Linked DNA regions of Homo sapiens. The protein of the gene in region 1 purifies or fractionates together with the protein of each later gene. This does not show direct contact. Each region holds a gene or a part of one and is shown in the gene's direction. Other genes may lie near its edges.

Region 1 (7,023 bases):
CAATATTAATATTCCACACCAGAGTAACACGTTTGTGACAAGGAGTGAACCTACACTAACACATCATTGTCATCCAAAGTTGATAGTTTACATTAGGGTTCACTCTTGATGGATGACACATATCCACTATTATAGTATTATATAAGCAGAATAGTTTCACTGCCCTAAAAATACCTTATGCTCCTCTTATCCATCCTTACTTTCCCCTTAGTCCCGTCCCAATTGACAACCATCAATTGATTTTTGTATTCTCTTCATAGTTTTGCCAGTTCCAAAATGTCATATAGCCAGAATCACACAGTACGTAGCATTTTCAGATTGACTTCTTTCATTTAGTGGTAATGCATTTCGTTTCCTCTGTGTCTTTTCATGGCTTGATAGATCGTTTTGTTTTAGTGCTGAATAATATTCCATTGTCTATATATACTACAGCTTATCCATTCACCTACTGAAGGACATCTCGGTTGCTTCCAAGTTTTGGCGATGATGAATAAAAGCCCCTGTAAATGTCCATGTACAGGTTTTTATGTGGACATAAGTTTTCAACTCCTAAATTTAGTTAAGCACCAAGGAGCATGACTGCTGGGTTGTATGGTAAGAGTGTGTTTAGTTTGTAAGAAATTGACGAACTGTCTTCCAAAGTGGCTGTCCCATTTCGCATTCATTAGCACCAGCAGTGAATGAGAGTTCTGTTGTTTCACATCCTGGCCAGCATTTGGTGTTGTCAGTGTTTTGGATTTTGGCCTTTCTAATAGGTATGTAGTGGTGTCTCACTGTTTTTATTGCAATTCCCTAATGACATATAATCTTGAGCATAGTTTCATATGCCTATTTGCTATCTGTATATTTGCTTTGTTGAGGTGTCTGTTGAGGTCTTTTGCCTGTTTCTTAATTGGCTTGTTCATAAAGAGTTCTTTGTACATTTTGGATAATAGTGCTTTATCAGATATGTCTTCAGCAAATATTTTCTCCTAGACTTTAGCATGTCTTCTCATTTTCTTAATGTGTTATCCTTTTAAAATACAGTTTAATTCCCCCTCATTTTGTTTTCAGTTGTTTTCTCCAAAACATTGTTTGCTAGTTTTTCACACATGCCTGTAATCTCAGCCTGGGTGCCAAGCTGTAAGAATCAGCAGCAGTTACGGGCTCCAGAGCTGGGTAGATGGGAGAGTGTTGGGGCTCCCCATTTGAAAGTGGAACTACTGGCTGAGGGCTCGCCCCTGGCTGTGGTGGTGGGTGTTCTTGTTGAGCAGACCTTACATGGGGCTCAGAGTTGTGGATGCAGGCAGGTTTATCCCTTCCCTGAAGCTCAAGCTGCTCCCTTCTTCCTTCTACTTCTCACTCAGAGATTGAGCAGGAACCTGTTGTTTCAGGAGTCAGTGACCTTTGAGGATGTGGCTGTTTACTTCACCCAGAATCAATGGGCCAGCCTCGACCCTGCGCAGAGGGCCCTGTACGGGGAGGTGATGCTGGAGAATTATGCAAATGTGGCTTCTCTGGGTAAGGCCTCCCTCTGTGGCCCTTTGTAACAGTTTGCTATCTTCCTCAGATGTTTTGGGGATTCTAGTAGCCCTTGGGTTTGATGACTTCAGAGGAGAGTTTTGCAATCAGCAGCCTCCAGAAATACTGGGTAGGGAAATCCTTGGTTCTCTTTGTTTTTTGTTTGTTTGTTTGTTTTGTTTGTTTGTTTGTTTTGAGACAGAGTCTCGCTCTGTCACCTAGGCTGGAGGGCAGTGGCATAGCCATGGCTCACTGCAGCCTCCAACTCCTGGGCTCAAGCAATTCTCCTATTTCAGCCTCCCAAGTAGCTGGGACTATAGGCGTGTGCCACTGTGCCTGGCTTCTCTTTGGTTTTGAAATTAGACTTCCTTATACTCCAGGAACAGTGTGGTCCTGGGCCCTGAGGGAAAGCATTCTTTCTGGCACCCTAAGTGAGCCCTTTGTTCCTTTGTCCATCCAGTTTTCTGGGGATGTTGGCCCTCCCTTTGTGGAAGGTTCTCCCAGGGGAGCAGTAGGTACATTTTTCCTGAGGGAGTTTGCCTTCTTCTGAGTCAGGGCCAGAATGCAGTTTCTTTCTGAGAAGAATCATACCTCCTTGGCTTTATCGTGGAGCACAGTTTGGACCTCCTTGTCAGAACTCTCACTTGGTCTGCTGGTGTTCAATTTCTCTCCCAAGTAGCCTGATGGAGGGTGGGCTGAGAAAGATCCCAGGAATAGCTCTGGACGTCTCCCCTCAATTTGTCTTTCTCTTTTCTTCATGAAGTAGCGTTTCCATTCCCCAAACCTGCTCTGATCTCCCACCTGGAGAGAGGGGAAGCACCATGGGGCCCAGATCCCTGGGACACCGAGATTCTGAGAGGCATCAGTCAAGGTGAGTATGAGAATCCAGTGGTGAAGTTTCTTGTTTTGCCTTCCTGGTTTACTAGGTAAGAAGTGTTTCTTATGCTGCAGGGTACAAATCTCCCAGTTATTTATAAGTCGATACTCACTGTACTCTCTGACCTCACACTGAGTTCTGACCCTGAGCTTTGAAAGACCACCTCTGGGAGTACATGGCCTCATGCTGTCTGCACATTCATGTGGCTATCCTCCAAGGCAGAAAAGCTGTGACCCAGTAGCTCCTAAACCACTTCTTTCTTACTTACTGGTGGAAAAGTTTTAATTGTATGCCATTTTTCATTGCAAAGAAGTGGGGTTTCAGCCAAATTTAAGGAAAATATGATTTTTTGGGGCCAAACTGATTTATTTGTGCTATAGCTATAAATTTTACTTTAGGCCTTCAGCCCTGAAAAGAATGGCTTTAATTTGCCTTTTTAGTATCTAAATCACTTAAGAGTTTCATTTGCCATAATCTTTAGATCTACATTATATTTACCATAGATGGGACTGTAGAGGAAAGGGCTAGGAATATTCTCCCATCATAGCCCCCTACGCACACACATGCATACACACAAACACATGCACACACGCACATGTGCACACACACACCACCTAAAATTTCCCTGAGATGGCTTACCAGTCCTGGAAGGTTTTGTTTACTTGCGTTTCCATTTCTTCAGAAGAAAATTTTCAAGCCTTCTCACACATTTATGCTTTTGTATATAGTGGTTCCTTTAGCACAGGTACCACAGTGGCTTACAGCTCTCTGATCCAACTTCTGTTCCAGCTGACTTTCTGAAACTAATCATCTTGTATCCCTGAATATTGTGTGGGATATTTAAATATAGGATAATTAGGACATTGTTTAGAATTTGGGGTGATTGCCTGGGTTACAGGTAGGGCTTTGGGATCTAGTTTTTTCCTGGTTTGTGTTTCTCAGTCTGCAAGACCTCTTGTAGTGCTGGAGCTGCTTCTCTATTCTTCCCAGTCTCTCATTCCTTTCTCCTCTTCTGGGTTTCTGTCTCTCTTTAAACATTTTTCACATTTCTCACTGTTCTTTCTTATTCTCTCCTTCTTTTTTCTTTTTTGTCCCTCCTACCTTCTTTCCTTCTCATTCTTGATTCTCCTTCTTCCCATCACCTACCTTAGTTCAATTTTCCAGCCTTCCTCGTGGGGAGCACTTCCTGGCTATCTTTCCTGTTCCATTTCTGTGTCTTTACTTCTCCAATTCTATGTCATTATTTTTCTATTTTTTTAAGACAGGGTCTAGCTCCGCTGCCCAGGCTGAAGTGCAGTGGCATGATCTCCACTCACTGCAACCTCTGCCTCCCGGGCTTAAGTGATCCTCCCACCTCAGCCTCCCTAGTAGCTAGGACCACAGGGGTGCGCCACCATGCCCGGCTAATTTTTGTATTTTTTTGTGGAGATGGGGTTTCACCATGTTGCCCAGTCTGGTCTCGAACTCCTGAGCTCAAGCCATCCGCCTGCCTCAGCCTCCCAAAGTGCCAACATTACAGGCATGAGCCACCACACCTGGCCTGTCATTATTTTTCTTTGTCTCTCTCATCCTCCTTTATAGATGCTTGTATATAACCATTTCACAGGTATCTTTAAAAATTACATTCTACAAGAGAAAATTAGGAACACTGGATCCTACTTTTCTTCCAGTTTTGTAACTAGGAACACTTGTGGTTTCTTTGGTCAGGTGGTGAGTCCTGGATCAAAAATGAAGGGCTAGTTATAAAGCAGGAAGCCTCTGAAGAAACAGAGTTGCACAGAATGCCAGTAGGAGGACTTCTCAGGAACGTTTCTCAGCACTTTGATTTTAAAAGGAAGGCACTGAAGCAGACTTTCAATCTAAATCCAAATCTGATACTTCGAGGTGGAATGAAGTTCTATGAATGTAAAGAATGTGGGAAAATCTTCCGATATAACTCAAAGCTTATTCGGCATCAGATGAGTCATACTGGGGAAAAGCCCTTTAAGTGTAAGGAGTGTGGCAAAGCTTTCAAGTCCAGCTATGATTGTATTGTACATGAGAAAAACCACATTGGAGAAGGGCCCTATGAATGTAAGGAGTGTGGCAAAGGTTTGAGTTCCAACACAGCCTTGACTCAACATCAGAGGATCCACACTGGAGAGAAACCCTATGAATGTAAAGAGTGTGGAAAGGCTTTCCGTAGGAGTGCGGCATACCTGCAGCATCAGAGATTACACACGGGAGAGAAACTCTATAAATGTAAGGAATGTTGGAAAGCTTTCGGTTGTAGGTCACTTTTTATTGTCCATCAGAGAATTCATACTGGGGAGAAACCTTATCAATGTAAGGAGTGTGGCAAAGCCTTCACCCAGAAAATAGCCTCCATTCAGCATCAGAGAGTTCACACTGGGGAGAAGCCTTATGAATGTAAGGTGTGTGGGAAAGCCTTCAAATGGTATGGAAGTTTTGTTCAGCATCAGAAATTGCACCCTGTGGAGAAGAAGCCAGTCAAGGTCCTTGGGCCATCCCTGGTCAGTCCCCAGTGCTCCTCTCCAGCCATACCTCCTGTTCTTCTCCAGGGATCCTGTTCTGCTTCAGCCGTAGCTGTGCCTTCACTGACCTTTCCACATGCTGTGCTCATTCCTACCTCTGGGAATTTTTTCATGCTGCTGCCTACATCTGGAATACCTTCTTCATCTGCCCAAATAGTGCGTGTCTTCCAGGGTCTTACTCCCACTGTGAAACCTTCCCCAGTTATTCTCACCCCTTCTTCTCACTCCTCATGAGCTTTATCTTGGCAGTCTTACGGCTCTTATGCCTAGCAAATCTCCAGCCTAATTTTATATATTTTTTTGAGAAAGGGTCTTGCTCTGTCACCCAGGCTAGAGTGCGGTGGTGTGATCTTGGCTCACTGCAACCTCCCCCTCCTGGGTTCAAGCGATTCTCCTCCTTCAGACTCTCGAATAGCTGGGATTACAGGCACGCCTCACCACGCCCAGCTAATTTCTGTATTTTTAGAAGAGATGGGGTTTCGCCATCTTGGCCAGGCTGGTCTCAAACACCTGACCTCAAGTGATCCGCCTGCCTTGGCCCCCCAAAGTGCTGGGATTACAGGAGTGAGCCACTGTGCCCAGCCTCCAACCTAATTTGAGTTTCATTTGTATTTTTTTCATCACCTTACATGTGTTAACAGCTGTTTCAACATAAACTCCATTATAATCTATATACATTTAAAGACCGTGTTTACATAATCTCTTCTGGGTAGAAAATGGAAATACTTAACCTTTGCATTGGTCCCTTTCAGGCTTGAACAACAGTGGCTGTATCTGCATCGTGGGGTTGCTGGTGGTAGAACACTTTGGTGTTAGGAAAGTTTGGAAAAGAGGATATCCCTGTATTAGGCCATTATGATTAGAGATAAGCAGCCTGGGAGAAACATACAAGACCTGTGGCTACTGGTAGAGAATTGGAATAAGCTTCCAACAATGGACTGTAGAGATTAATGGAGATTGTTTAGTGGGCCCATGGCTAGGTGGGGTATTAATACAGTTGAAGTTATGTTGCCCTTGGCACAGATCTTTGAGAATCTCATACATCTGTGAAAAAGATAATGTGAAATAAACAGTAAAAAAAAAAAGTATGTTGATGGCAGTGAGAGTAATCATGTCTTTAAACGTGAAGTTTTTTTTTCTTTAGTTTTGCTCTTGATAGCTAGATGTTTCTTTTAACTTTTATTTCGTAAGTAAATATACACAAAGGCATTCATCTTTGTTGAATCTGTTGTGCAGATTTTTCTTGATGAGCATTCTGTTTTTTTTTCTTTGTGAGCACTGGCTTCTATATTTTATTTCATATTTATGAATTATAAATATGAATTTAATTACTAAAGAAATAAAAATAATGGTGTAAAGCCAACTCGAGGGGAATCTGAATAAGCTTCCAAAATTTTTTTTTTTAAGAAATAAAGGGAGCTGTGTAGTGGGTCAGTGGCTAGGTAGGTTAGTGAAGTGGAATTTGGGGTTGCTCTTGGAAGTGGCCTTGATGAGGATCCTTTACAACTATTCAGAGGACTGTGTGAAGTAGTTACTGGAAAAAGAACTTGAATTATGCATTTATTGGCATTAATGTAAACAGTAAGTCCTAAGCTTTGATGGAAGGGTCCATACATTTTTTTTTTTTTTTTGCTGATGTTGCTATCTAGATGTTTCTCTATAGCAATTAATAGCAAAACCTTTACATTCTTGGTTTTTAAACTTTACCATGTGTCTGAATTACATAGTGTGCTTGTAAAAAGAAGAGTTTTCTCTCTTGCACAAATTCTGATTTTGGCTATCTGTGGTGATGGCCAGATCTTTAGCATGGACCATACTTTGAGAGATATGCTTCAAACAGAAAATGCCCACCCCTCCTCCTTTACCCAGCATAAACTCTATGGTTAATTCTTAAAATAATGCCTTACAGTCTCCATTAACTCCCTTGCCCTTCTCTTGCTTTGTCATGCTCGCTTGGCAAAACCTCATCTCTGACTAAATGCAGTTCTTTGCCTTCTCTGTTCCTGCACCAAAAATGATCAGGAGAAAGCATATTACCAGGCTGAACTGTCACTTTAAATTCATGACCAGTAACTTCATGGAGGCCCTTAACGTTTCCTGATGGTCATACTA
Region 2 (7,749 bases), on another chromosome or scaffold:
TTAAAAAAGCACAGAAATGCAAATGACACTATTCTCTCAGGCTTTCACGCTTTCACTGTTTCTGGTCTTCAGTAGTAGCCCCCTGAACCTAGATAAAAGCAAATCTGTTGCTGAAAGTTAGTAAAACTTTTCCTTACATTCTATGAGGTCTTTCCTGGCTCAAGGCCTTTGCACACACTGTTCCTTCTGCCTGGAAGGCCTCATCCACTCCTAGCCTGATGGCTTTTACTCAGCTTAGGTGTCAGTGCCTCTGGCAGGCCTTCCTCGAACCCCCAAACCTAAGTCCAGTCTTTCCTTTCATAGAACCCTGTACTTTTCCCTCAAAGCCTCTAACATTTGTAACTTCAAATTCATTTGTGGGAGCATTTTTTAAATGCTTCTGCAAACTTGCAGCCCCCTTCAACCATCAGACTGTAAGTTCCAGGGACCCAATATATTTATTTGTTCATCATTGCCTCAGAGTGCCTGGCGCATAATATACCCTTTATAAGTAGTTACTGAGTAAGCGAATCCTGAAATTAAGCCTCTCTAAAGCAAATAGGTATAGGATTCTATTAGTCCCCTTAGCTGTGCCTTCTCTTCTAAAGTTTTAAGAACTGGCCGGGCGCAGTGGTTCACGCCTGTCATCCCAGCACTTTGGGAGGCCAAGGTGAGCGGATCACTGGAGACCAGCATGGACAACATAGTGAAACCCTGTCTCTACTAAAAATACAAAAAAAAATTAGCCAGGTGTGGTGGTACATGCCTGTAATCCCACCTACTGGAGAGGCTGAGGCACAAGAATTCCTTGAACCCAGGAGGCGGAGGTTGCAGTGAGCTGAGATCAGGCCAACCTGGGGCCCAGAGGCAGAGACTGCAGTGAACTGAGATCAGGCCAACCTGGGGCCCAGAGTGAGACTCCGTCTCAAAAAACAAAAAACAAAATAAAACAACAACAACAACAACAACAAAAACTTATCTCCATTCACATTGCCTTCAACAAGAAAGTGATTCTGGAAATAAGATAGAGTAATTCTTTGCAGTCTCATGTTTTAATCTTTTAAAGCAGTTTCTCAACCTTGGCACTATTAACATTTTGGGATGGATAATTCTTTGTTGTGGGGGATGCCCTGCTCACTGTAGAAAGTTAAGCACCATCTTTGAAAGTTAAGCACCATCTTTGGCCTCTATTCATTAGATGCCAGTAACATCAACTCCCCAAAATTGCCGGGTGCAGTGGTGCACACCTGTAGTTCTAACTACTTGGGAGGCTGAGGCAGGAGGATCACCTGAGGCCAAGAGTTCAAAGCAGCAGTGTGCTGTAGTTGTGCCTGTGAATAGTCACTGCACTCCAGCCTTGGTAACAGTGAGACCCTGTCTCTAAAAGAAAAAGCATGGTGGCTCACACCTGTAATCTCAGCACTTTGGAAGGCCGAGGTGGGCAGATCACCTGACATCAGGAGTTTGAGACCAGCCTCGTCAACATGGTGAAACCCCATCTCTACTAAAAATGCAAAAATTTGTCGGGCATGGTGGTGCATGCCTGTAATGCCAGCTACTCAGGAGGCCGAGGCAGAAGAATCGCTTGAACCCGGGAGGCAGAGGTTGCAGTAAGCCTACATTGCACCACTGCACTCCAGCCTGGGCAACAGAGTAAGACTACGTCTCAATAACATAAAACAAAATAAAATAAAATAAAAGGGAAGAAGAAAAGAAAGAGAGAAAGGGAGAAAGGGAGGGAAGGAGGAGGAAAGGAAGGAAGGAAGGAAGGAAGAAAGGAAGTCTTTAGATGTTGCCCCATGCCTGCCAATTCACCTGTGGTTGAGAACCACTGTGTTGAAGTGTGAAACTTCAGGCCTTATTCTCTTGTAGAAGAATTACATATAGAAATTCAGGTTGTTGAATGATTCCCGGGTTATAAGAGAATTCTACCAACCCAGTTGGATCAAAATAGTGCCCACCCCTATCTTGTTTCCGTAGCACTCCCTGCGTTTCCTTTGAAAAGACCATTAGTGATGGTCTAATTCAGGGAAATATTCTGATCTTGGGAAGAAAGAATGCTGGGCTGTTCTAGAAAGATGAAGGAAAGGGGTGGTGTTTCTGAGGAAACCAACGCCTCTGAGACCCCTCTGGAATTGGCAGTCCCCTACAACTTTTCTAGGGGCATGTCCCAGAGGACAGTGAAAGGGAGACAAACAGCCCATTCTGGCCTGCTTTTCAGGATCTCTCACTCCAAACAAGAAAGTCTGAGAGGCCTGGTAAAAATAAATATGGCTTAGTACTCCTGGCACAAGAGCAGTCTCTGACAGCCAAGACTTAACTCACCCTAGGGGGTGACCCAGACAGGGACTATGCACGAAGCTAGTTTCTTACCCATTGATATTCCCAGTGACTCACAGCAGCCAGGGATGACTCTGTGCACCAGAACTGTGCTGAACCGTGGAGAAGGACTTGGGATGCACATAGGAAACAGTCTCTCAAGCTGAGTCAGACAGGGACAGCCCGCCTCTCGTTTCTTCTCCAATTCCAGAAAAACAACACAAATCATGCCTCTGGAAAGGAACCTGTCCTTTGCATACAGAGTGGAAACTGTTTATAACTTCTTAATCCCCTGACATTGAAAGTATGGGGACTGCCTATCCTGGATTTCTTTGGGACAACTGTACTGGCTCTACCACAAGTCCCTAGTTTTCAGCTGGAAAAAAATATGGTCTCCAGAATCCCAAGGTCATTCCCAACAGATTTAAAAGCAAGTCTTCGGCCAGGCAGAGTGGCTCACGCCTATAATCCCAGCACTTTGGGAGGCCGAGGCGGGTGGATCACCTGAGGTCAGGAGTTCGAGACCAGCCTGACCAACATGGAGAAACTCCGTCTACGAAAAATACATTAGCCGGACGTGATGGCGCATGCCTGTAATCCCAGCTACCCTACTCGGGAGGCTGAGGCAGGAGAATCGCTTGAACCCGGGAGGCCGAGGTTGCAGTGAGCTGAGATGGCGCCATTGCACTCCAGCCTGGGCAACAAGAGTGAAACTCCGTCTCAAAAAAGAAAAAAAAAGAGCAAGTCTTCATAAGCAACATATATGAAACCCTGAGACCAACCAAACCTGCATTAGGAAATGAGAGGTGGGAAGGAGGATGCTGGGGAATCAGCCTCTACTTTTGACGTTTTTTCCTCCTTGGATTTTAGGCTGTGGTAACTGATCGAGGCCAGAAATGTTGACAGTCTTGCCTAGCCCCAAGATCATGTAAGCCTGACCTGACGCTACTGCCGCCTTCAGTCAGCAAGAAGAACTACACACCCAGAAAATGCTTCAGTAATAGTTACCATGGTGATGCTAGTTCAACCACATTGCATCTGGATAAAAATTTCAGGCAAAACGATATAGAAAACTACTGCCTAACAAGGAGTTAACACCTTACATCTTTTATGTTGTTGTTGTTGCTGTCGCAAAGTATGGTTCATGTTAGCTTTGGTAAAAGATGGTAATTTGAAGTGAAAGTACTGAAAAAAACAAGCAAGGATGAAATGTCAATGTATCCATTTAGAGAAATCTAATAACCACTTTGCACTATGCCAAATTACTTTCCCCTCAGCTAACAGGGGGCATTTGGGTCTTCCTGACTCTATTTACTGGTGAGGAAAGTGAGTTAATGAAATCCATAGATGATCCAAGCCCAAGAAATGCTGGCATATCAGCTGGGAGGGAAAAAAGCGATATACTGGGCCATCAGAAAGTTGGGCATTTGGGCAAAAGGAACAAAACAAGATTCAACCTGGAAAAATGGAAGGTGGTGAAATTAATCCGTATTATTAATATGCATTAGGGAGAGTAGACCACAAAAGGAAGGAAGACTAGAGACAAGTTTATGATTTTATGCAGTAAATCAAAAGTTAAATCTGAGGGAAGGACCTACAGACTGGGGCTGGAAGGAGGCTGAGGGCTTTGTGGGAGTGCAGCTGCCCATGAGGACTCCTTTCCTGACCCCCTCCCTTCCTTGTCAGGATCAGAAAGTCAAAGAAGGTGAAGAGGCTAACAACAGTGATTTACAAAGACAGCAAGGAGGAACTAAGTCTGTATGGGCCGAATCTGGGCCTCTGAGCTGGAGCAACAGGACCCAGACAACCATCTCAGGAAATGAGTGAATGAAAAGGGGCGGGGGGGTCGGTGAATTATTTAGCCCTAGAACAACGCTGCCTAGACCGGGGGAGGCCAGGGAGAAGAAAATCTCCGAAAAGGAATTTTGACAGTGAGAACGCCAGTTAAGATACAGCACTCCAGGCCCCCTGATGTCCCTTGTTTGATGTCAATAAAGACCCAAGAGGATTATGCATCCACAAGCCTTGCGTATTCGCAGACATCAAAAAAGTCTGGACTTGGGGCCGGTAGGCGGGGGCAGGGTCACGTCCAGGCGACTTGGGTCAGCTCAGGTGCTCGTCTGAAGCATAGAGCTGGAGTGAGCGGGGGCGAGACTTGCTGCTAGGATAATTTTTTTTTTTTAAGTTAGGGAAATTTAAGCAGTAGTAATAGCGACAGGGAGGGGGCTCTCTCTCGGGCCAGGAATGTGGGGGCGGCCTGAGGAGGAGCGGGGCCCCGCGCAGGAGGCGCCGGCGGGTGGGGTCGGGGGACCAGGGAGCCGGGGCCGAGGGCGGGAAGGGGCCGGGCCGGCGCTGGGGGCGGGCCCAGGCGCGGTGGCGGTGGCCGGGGCTGCGGCGCGGGGGGCGGGGCGGTCGGGCCCGGGACACCCCCTCCCGGTCCCCTGGCGGGGCAGCGTCGGCTCTGGCAGCACTGGAGGCGGCGGCGGCCCGAGGGCGACTTGCGGGGCGCGCAGGCCGCCGTGCACCCGGGACGCTTCCCCCTCGGGGACCCTCCGCGGGCTTCTCCGCCGCGCCGTCCGGCGGGAGCCGGCGGGACCCCGGGCGAGCGGCGCGGGCGGCACCATGAGGCGGCAGTGGGGCGCGCTGCTGCTTGGCGCCCTGCTCTGCGCACACGGTAAGCGGCGCCCGCCGGGAAAGTTTGTCCCTGGGTCCGGCCGCTGCAGGACTCGCCTCCCGGGACCTGGACGGCGCGGGCCGGGGCCTGAGACCCCTCGCCCTCGCTCCTAGCCGTGGCCCTGGGGCTGCGTGCAGGGGAGAGGACCCGGAGCGGCCCCGGCTCCAGCAGTCCGAGCGGGGGCATCAGCGGAGGCGCTTCCGCGGGTTCGGGTCTGGGCCGGGGCGCGGGTCTGGGCCGGGGCGCGGGTAAGGTCCGGGGCGTTCGTTCGCTCGCCCTCCCTCGCTGCTCTTTCAAGAGCGGGGGCTGCTTCCCTTTCAGGTTAGGTCGGGGGCTCTGTGTCCTTGGTGCGAATGAATGCGTGCGAAGAAAGGGAGGCGGGTGAGGAGGGTCGCTAAACCCATAAATTGTAAATAGCCCTCCTTCCTGGGGCTGGGGGCTCGGGCGGGTTGCGGAGAGAGGCCCCGGTAGAATCTGGTACTTGGGCACCGGGATTCCTCTACTCGGAGAACGATTCCCGGACTCCAGGTCTTGCTCCCACCAAGGGGCTCTGGGGCACTGTTTGCGGGCAGCATCTCCCCTCGGCGGTGTTTCGGGGTCCCTCTCTTGGCTGCGGCCAGTCAGCTTCCAGCCCTGGATCGTCCTAAAGGGAGGTGGTTGGAAAGGGGGCTGAGGAGGAATATAGGGAAGAAACTGCTGGAAGGCTCCCGCAGATCTGCCCTGGCTGGGGTAGGGGGGCAGGGGGCCGGTAACCCTGAACCCCAGAAGGCAGCCGCCGGGCCCTCGCGGCAGGGTCCCAGCCCTCGGGGGAGCTGGACGGCTGCAGCAGGACTCCTTGGTGCCCGTACCCCCTGTTGTGTGGGACTAGGGCTCCGATGGAATCTGCTTCTCCGCGGGCTCTTAACGACCCTGGGTGCACCCCGTGATTGAGCAGCTTTCCCTAGTTTGTGCCCAGAGATCAAAGAACTTTGATCTTTGAACCCCAGCCCTATTCACCCATCGCTATTCATCGTGGCGGGAGTTCCGAGTCTCCCCATTTGCCTCGCAGCCCCGATGAAGGGAGCTGGGGCTCAGAATGGAGGGGTCTGGAGACCCTGCCTGGTCTTTTACCGGTTCTTTCTTTCACGTAGGACAGCTCGTGTGGAAAAAGTCAGTGCAGATTTCCGAACTTGCCTGGCAGGGCGTGGAGATGTCTAGGCACTCGTTTTAAAGATTGGTTTACCTCCCAAATCCAAAACAGAGTTTTCATGTCTCTTATTTAAACTACCTGTGGGTTTTCAGGGGCTTTTTTCCGCGTCCTCTCTAGCGCGGACTGAGCTCTTTCTCTCCGAAGAGCGGTAGCTTGGCCGGCCCACGTTCCGCTCCGCTCTGCGCTCTCCCCTCCCCGGCTCTCTCCTGGAAGGTTATTTGTAGCCTCTTTGGCGTGTTGGGACAGCGGCCCTACTGGGGTAGGAATGTAGCTGTTCTTCCCACCACATGGGCCCCTTAAAGGGACAGCTTTGCTTTTTGGGGGGTTTCCCCCTTCGGGTTGCAAGGAAAGGGGATGGAACTTTCCTCTCAGCCCCCTGGAGGAAGTTTTGAAAAAGATCAAGGGAAATGGCAAGGCACTGGGAAAAAAAAAAAAAATTAGGGTTAAAACGGATACCAACAAAGCCAGAGAGGAGATTGTCGCCTTCTGCCCTAGGGAAGGGGGAGCTGGAAGGTTCCGGGCTGAGACTGGCCAAGAAGATTTTACTGCTCCAGAGCTGTCAACGCTGCAAATATTACATGTGCATAGAGGATGGGGGTGAGAATGGGGGGAGAGAATTGCGTATGTCTAATGTTTCACAGAAAAAGAATGGGAGGATTCGCGGTAACGCTTTTAGGTTTCTTTCTCTTTTTTTTCTTGGAGAGGGTGTCTCACTCTGTTGCCCAGGCTGGAATGCAGTGGGGCAATCATAGCTCACTACAGCCTCGACCTCCCAAGCTCAAGTGATCTTGTCATCTCAGCCTCCTGAGTAACTGGGACTACAGGCATGCACCACCATACCCTACAAATTTTTGTTTTTTTTTCTAGAGATGGGGTTTCACCATGTTGCCAAGGCTAGTCTCCAACTCCTGGGCTCAAGTGATCCACCTGCCTCGGCCTCCCAAAGTGCTGGTATTACAGGTGTGAGCCACTGTGTCCGGCCCAGGTTTCTTTTTAAGGAAAAAAGTTTAATAGAAACGTCTAAGCATGGGAAGCTTTCTGTGCACATGTTTGTAAGGGTAGGCAGTGGGGTGAAGGTATACACATCACCTGGCCTGATACTGAGCCATCCTTGGAGGTCTGGGGGGTCAGATTCACAGTTCACCAGTAAGATTGAGCAGTTTCAGAGCCTGGAACCAGCACAACCAAAAATACCACCAAAACATCTTTTGGACTGACACTCAATTCCAGGGGCTCAGGGAGACAGCAGTTGTGATAAATGTAGTAGTAGATCCATTAGGCAGACCTGACCTCAGCAAGGCATGAATTAAAGACACTAAAGTTTAAGGTGATTTTGGGAGGCTGAGACTAGCGGATCACTTCAGGTCAGGAGTTCAAGACCAGCCTGGCCAACATGGCAAAACCCCATCTCTACTAAAAATACAAAAATTAGCCAGGCACAGTGGCACATGCCTGTAGTCCCAGCTACTCGAATGGATGAGGCAGGAGAATTGCTTGAACCTGGGAGGCAGAAGTTGCAATGAGCCAAGATCACTCCCCTGCACTCTAGCCGGGGCGACAGAGTGAGACTCTATCTTAATAAATAAAT

Evidence for each region. The genes of interacting proteins can lie anywhere in the genome.
Region 2: the proteins of ZNF621 (region 1) and LRP4 purify together in Homo sapiens (affinity purification with mass spectrometry; 3 studies listed by BioGRID and IntAct, with this or other methods). This does not show direct contact.

Annotation. Positions count from the first base shown.
Region 1 is NC_000003.12:40,527,946-40,534,968, forward strand, and holds part of ZNF621 (zinc finger protein 621), read left to right. Parts: intron 1-1,373; coding exon 1,374-1,500; intron 1,501-1,549; coding exon of another isoform or gene 1,550-1,630; intron 1,631-2,263; coding exon 2,264-2,371; intron 2,372-4,084; coding exon 4,085-5,145; 3' UTR 5,146-7,023. UniProt on the Homo sapiens protein: May be involved in transcriptional regulation.
Region 2 is NC_000011.10:46,915,551-46,923,299, reverse strand, and holds the start of LRP4 (low-density lipoprotein receptor-related protein 4 precursor), read left to right. Parts: upstream 1-4,749; 5' UTR 4,750-4,920; coding exon 4,921-4,972; intron 4,973-7,749. UniProt on the Homo sapiens protein: Mediates SOST-dependent inhibition of bone formation. Functions as a specific facilitator of SOST-mediated inhibition of Wnt signaling.